Regions from separate parts of the Homo sapiens genome. Here region 2 is reported to be linked to region 1. The links are microRNA targets in miRTarBase. Many come from high-throughput screens and were not tested one by one. Region 1 holds a microRNA gene; the other region holds the end of a gene's coding sequence.
What was found. Region 1 holds the annotated microRNA hsa-miR-4330 (CCUCAGAUCAGAGCCUUGC, at 2,023-2,041, opposite strand). A microRNA usually pairs through its seed, bases 2 to 8, with sites in the 3' UTR of a target mRNA and lowers its output. Matches are read on the target gene's strand: a 7mer-m8 pairs with bases 2 to 8, a 7mer-A1 pairs with bases 2 to 7 and ends in A, and an 8mer does both.

Region 1 (3,176 bases):
TGCTTTACAGATGAAGAAAGTGAGGCCCAGAGAGGTTAAGTCACTTGCCCCAGGTCACACAGGTAATAAGTGGTAGAGCCAGAAGTCTAACTTGGGCAGTCTGGCTCCAGAATCTGTGCTTTAACCACTGTGCCTCATGGCTTATTTGCAGGCCACACCTGGTTCCTGGCTCTAGAGCACTGGGTCTCAAATTTAGTGCATGACAGAGCAGCCAGGAGTATTAAGAAATTGCAGCTTTCTAGGCCTTCCCCTAGAGAGTGTGACTTGGCAGGTCTGTACGGGGCCCTGGAATCTGCATGTTTCCCAAGTGTCTCAGGTGATTCTAATGCAAGCAGCCCAGGAATCCCTTCTAGAGAAATCCTGCTGTTAACTCAGCCCTGCCCCTAGCCCTTGGCAATTTAAGGATGTCTAGGTCTGTCATCCAGTGACTCCTGCTGAGTTTGCTCTTGAGGGTTTATATACTAGTCCCTGCTGGGACTTTATAAACTTGTTCTAGTGTATAAGATCTTGCTTTGACCCTCAGACTAAACCCTACCCTCTATCACAGTTCTGGTGATGGGGTTCCCAGCCCAATGCCTGATAATAACCTGACCAGCTCCCTGAAAACAGGGCAACCAGAGGCCTGACTATGGCCACCTTCCTGCTGCCAAACTCATCCTGATGGCTTGCCTGAGTAGGGTTGCCTATTTATCAAAAATACAGGATGCTCAGTTAAATTTGAATCCCAAGTACATTCTTAGTATAAGTATATTCCATGCAATATTCGGACATACTTATACTCAAAATTGTCCACTGTTTATCAGAAATTTAAATTTAGCCAGGGGCCGTGTATTTTATCTGGCAGCTCTATGGCTGCGGACCACCTGTAGCTGACCCTAAATGAGCCAAATATGAGGACTTGGCATTGGTTGGTAATGGGATTTTCTTTCTCCCCTTCCCCCGAGCAAGGGGCTCAGTCAACCCTGGGGAGCAGGAACTATTGATTCAGGATTGGAGGGGCCCAGTTCTGGCTGTCAACTTGCCATCTGCCTCTGGCGGATACTGATTTGATATATTTCCTACTCGCTTTAGCCAGCCTCCTCTGTTTGCTCAGGAGATTCATAACCCATTCTTAGAAACATGCCTGTCTCCTGTTTGCCTGAGTAGTACGCTACTGTAGAATCGCCCCTGTACGTAGCAGTTTGCAAATTGACCCCTGGCATTTGAGGAATGTACATACTGTTTTGAATTGGGCTTATATTTGAAACGACTGTGTGTTTTGTATCCATGCCATCTTGTAGGTATGGTGAGTCTCTCTCCGAACCTCAATTGCAGCTGCCCTGGAAGACTTAGCTTTTGGGGGTCCTTCCCAGGACTCCCCCAAATCAATTTTGTATATTCCATGTAACATATCTTCTGAGTCTGACCATTATAAAGCTACCTCCAAATGCAGACAACATCTATCTAGCCATTTTCACATGATGTTATAACACACGAGCAGTCAGAAAAAAAAAGTATACTTTTATTGAAATAGCTTTGTCACCTAAGCCAGAGGGTTGGGACTCCCTTATTACATCTGTATCCATTCTAGTCAGAGGGAGGCCCATGAGTGAAAGGTGGGGAATTGTGTGTACAGGAACCACCTCCTCAAGCTAAGTATTACTGGAATGGAGAGGAAAGTGTGTGGAGGGCCCAGGGGGGAGATGTGTCTGTCTGGAATATTAAAGAAGCAAAAGGACAAACTGCAATAAAACACGCTAGCAGGACCATTCATTTGGCTGTAGAGTCACCAAAGGAAATCACTGGAACTTTCTGTAAGTGGATGCAAATGAGGAAACAATCCCACACTAGCCTGGGTCGAAAAGACTCCAAGACTTCACCTATTTTTTTCATTGCTGAGGCCAGCGCCAATTTGTAAGACTTAAAGCCCCAGGGAATTAGATTGAACAGATATTGTAATTCCAGTGACACAGGGCCCACAATGAGCCCCCATTTGGAACAAACACCAAAAACACTTCCTGAGTCTCCCCTCTGGCCTGACCTGCAAGGCTCTGATCTGAGGAGCAGCTGATGAAGTAGGCGTCAAAAAGAAGCCCCCTTCCTCTCCTGCATCCTCAGATAATTGCCTGCTGACAATTAGCTAGTAGTTCTGGTGCTTCTATCCTCTCTGAAACAGATAGTTCATAGTTAAGTTCCACTTTCTAGTCAAAATTGCCTTACGTCGCCAGTATGCTTCTCACTGTCTGCTTTCTGTTCTCACTGTGTGATGAAGACATACCCGAGACTGGGAGGATAAAGAGGTTTAATTGGACTTACAGTTCCACATGGCTGGGGAGGCCTCAGAATCATGGTGGGTGGTGAAATCCACTTCTCACATGATGACAGCAAGAGAAAAATGGGAAGAGAAAAATGAGGAAGATGTAAAGGCGGAAACCCCTGATAAAACCATCAGATCTCGTGAGACTTATTCACTACCATGAGAACAGTATGGGGGAAATCGCCCCCATGATTCCAATTATCTCCCACCAGGTCCCTCCCACAACACATGGGAATTATGGGAGTACAATTCAAGATGAGATTTGGGTGGGGACACAGAGTCAAACCATATCACTGTGACACATTACATTTTCTAAAATGAAAAAACAAACAAAAAAATAAAAAAACACATTCTTATGACTTTCCTTCCACTTGGAGATGTCCTTTGGCTTTCACAGAAAACTCAAGTAGTTTGATTGGAAAGGATTTTGAGGTGATCACCAAACCCTTTCCTTCACTCCTTCCTTGCTGTCACATTCTACTGCATTGGAGAAGGAAGGCTTCTGGATCTCCAGAGAGGCAGAATTCAGCTGCCCTCCATGTGTGAGGGGTAGTAATGACCTTAGCTTCTTTCTTTCTTTCTTTCTCTTTCTTTCTCTCTTTCTTTTTCTTTCTTTCTTTCTTTTTCTTTCTTTCTTCTTTCTTTTTCTTTTTTTTTTTTAGATGGAGTCTCTCTCTGTCGCCCAGGCTGGAGGGCAGTGGCGACATCTTGGTTCACTGCAACCTCCACCTCCCGGGTTCAAGTGATTCTCCTGCCTCAGCCTCCAGAGCAGCTGGGATTACAGGCGTGTGCCACCACACCCAGTTAATTTTTGTTTTTTTAGTAGAGACGGTGTTTCACCATGTTGGTTAGGCTGGTCTCGAACTCCTGACCTCGAGAT
Region 2 (3,000 bases), not on the chromosome of region 1:
CTCTTGGTAAACTCTCTCTTCCTCCGGCCAGGCCCAGGTGTGGTCCACACCAGCAGATAAAAAGGGAAGAGAAACCCAGCTCCCGGCCTGGCAGAGCTGTTTCACGCAAAGGCTCTGTGATTCAGTGATGCTGTGCAGGGTGGACGCCAAGCTGCCGGACGGGATCTGGAGGGAGCACTGAGGATGGGTCCCATGGGGCCAAGTCCAGGCTGGGTGGGAGAGCGACTCAGAGCCAGGGCCGCAAGGTGGGCCTGGCACAGAGCTCCCAAGTCCACAGGGAGATGAGGTGATGGGCGAGTCAGCCGGGCCCCCCGGGTGGAATCAGCAACTCTGGTTTCCAGACAAGTTTGTCTTTCTCGAAGCCCATCCTGGGGGAATGCAGCCAGCCCCAAGCTAAGCCGGATGAAGCAGGAAGGAGAAGGCAGTCCCTGCATCCTGGACAAGGGTGAGTGTGGCCCACATCTCAACAGCCACATCCTCGTCTTGCTGTTGGGATGGACAGATGGACAACTCCGGGCCGCACCCTCCACCCCAACCCCAGGCCTCAGGACCTGCCTGCACACTGCCCACGCGCCATCCAGGTAAAGTGCTTAGAGAGCGACAGGGAAAGGTGCAAAGTGAGTGAAAAGTACCATAATTAGTACCATCATCTTGTCGGAGGAACTTGGAGGCCGGCAGCCCGCTCAGGGTTTGAGAAGAAGCCAGAACACTGCTCTGAGCAGCTGCCCCAACTCTGCTGCCTCCTTCCCTCCCCTGCTCTCAGACTGGAGGGCGTTTCTCCACTCGCCTGGCCCCAGCACAAAGGAAGAGATCGGGTTCCCTGCCTGGGAGCCCAGACATGGGTGGGAGTGGGATGGGGGTGGAGCAGGAGGGCCCACAGCTTCCTGGTCTGAGTCCCAGGCATCTGCAGCCTCCCTCTCCTCCTCTTGGGAGCAATGGGCAGCTGATCCCCCCAGTCTACCCCACCTTCCTGGGGTCTGGCCCAGCCAGGCCCCCCGCACCGTCTATGGGTGTCCGGGCCACAGGAGGAGCTTCCCTGCTGTGTCGGAGCATGCTGGGTGCAGGGGCAGGGTTGTTCCAGGGCGCTATTTCAGAGGCAGCATGGGGACACAGAAACAAGGACAGGGTGGGCCACAAGGACTGTCTTGCCCACTGCTCCAGGGGGCACAATATCTGCCAGGAACAGTGCGCCTCACAACACAATGCTGGGGCGCCCAAGAACAGTGTGAACCAGCCCCCTGGAATCAAGACAGAAAGGCACCCGGCCTCTCCACAAATTGGCCCAGCCCCTGCAGCCTGGACCCTGACACCCTAAAGCAAGTCACAGTAGGGGATGGGGGGGGGTGGAGCAAGGCCCCCCACTCCCACTCAGGCCTCCCCATTCTCTCAGATCCGACCCTTCTCTGAGCTTCACCCGTAAGGCTTATTCCACTTGTAACATTGTCGACTTCCAGACCAGGCCCTGCTAAGCCCTGGCCCTGGCGCTTGTGTCGGGAGCCATCATCATATTTTGTTGAGTAGGGACCAGGGAAAGGGGAATTAACTTGGCCACTGAAAGCACCAATAAGTTAATATAAATAGGATATCATAATAAATAGAAATCATGCCAGGTCAGACGCACAGCACGCTTGGAGCTCAGGGTTCCCTGAGACCCTGACCCTAAGTTCTGCTGTTCCCTTGCCCTGGGGACCAGAGACGGCCTCCAGTCCCCCTCAAGTACCTCTGTGTGACCTCACAAGGCCTCCCAGGGCCTCAGATGTGAGCTGCTACTCTGAGCTACCCCAGCCCCTTCTTACAGACCTTTACCCAGAGGAAGAGCCTGGGTCCCTCAGAACCTCTGCACCTGACTTAGCAACCTGCCCCTGCCCTACCCACCTCCACAAACCCCTGCTGCAGGTCCAGCCATCAGACCCTGGCCATCCCAGGCTGCAGGGAAGATCACGGGGAAGAGAACGAAGAACCTACCAAAGCTTTCCAGGCCTCTCCTCCTCCCAGTGTCTTCCTTCCCAGGCCTGAAGGTGGCTTCTCTGCCTCCCCAAGAGCCTGAATGCCAAGTGACCTCCTTCTGGAAACTTCTGCCAGATTGTTCCTATGCCCAAGTTCTCTGATCATCCTCAAAAGAAGACAGCCTTCCATCCCAGAGGCCCCTCTCTATCTTCCACTCATCAAACTTCTAGGGGACAAGGAGTCCTTTGGGATCCTAGCCCCTCTGGCCCACCTAAGTCCCAACCTAAGGGGCAGCAAAGGCACAGATGGTGATAATTTGCTGGGGGCTGGTCCACTCCCCTGGGCCCTGCTGTCTCACCCTGTGGTCAGGGCTCTTGTAGATGACTTGTGTAGTTTGTTCACTGCACAAAGTGAGCAAGGGGCCAAAGGGACAAGTAGAGGCAGAAGTCCAGCCCACGCTCCCCAGTCCACAATCTCCCAGAGGAAGGGGCACCTTCTTCTAGCTCCCTCCCTATGGAAGTTTCCACTCTGCTCAGCTTCATCACAGCCCAGCCCAGAGTGGAGTGGACTGGCCAGGCACCCTCGGGGTCTGCCAGCAGCCCCCATTTGGGTTTAGCGATGCCCTGGGCCCCAGCCACCCTTGGACAGGCCCCCACATCTGGACCCAACTCCTGAGATCCCTCGGTTCACAGCACACTTCAAGACCTCCTGCTAGAAGGCCTGGGCCAACACGGCGATGATCTGCTTATACTTCCCCAGGAGTTGACAGCCCAGCTTCTTCTTCTGGAAGACATCCTTACCCGAGGTGTCAGGGCCGTAGGTCACGTCCACATGGCCCACGTGGTACTTGCTGCACAGGCGGCACAGCACGTTGCTAAGGAGGCCTCGCAGGATGTCGGCGGTGGCGTTGAGCTTGCTGTGGAGGCTGAGGGCACTGGGGTTGAGGATCTTCTGGTCCCGGGTGATGTTGCCCAGGGAGGTGCCAAGGTACACGACTATGCGGTACAGCTCCACCAGCTTGGCCTTCTCCGTGCCGTTGGCGTGGAAGGGCGG

Region 2: miRTarBase lists LIF as a target of hsa-miR-4330. Seed matches in the 3' UTR shown: 7mer-m8 at 1,752-1,758, 8mer at 1,385-1,392 and 7mer-A1 at 758-764.

What each region holds. Positions count from the first base shown.
Region 1 is chrX:151,167,163-151,170,338 of GRCh38, reverse strand. MIR4330 (microRNA 4330) reads right to left here and starts at 2,117; the gene lies at 2,013-2,117.
Region 2 is chr22:30,240,993-30,243,992 of GRCh38, forward strand. It overlaps LIF (LIF interleukin 6 family cytokine), which reads right to left. Exons shown (of 3, transcript NM_002309.5): 3 at 1-3,000. The coding sequence ends at 2,659. Among named protein-coding and RNA genes, the nearest start is that of LIF-AS1, 3.3 kb to the left of the region's middle. RefSeq lists an enhancer at 644-1,312.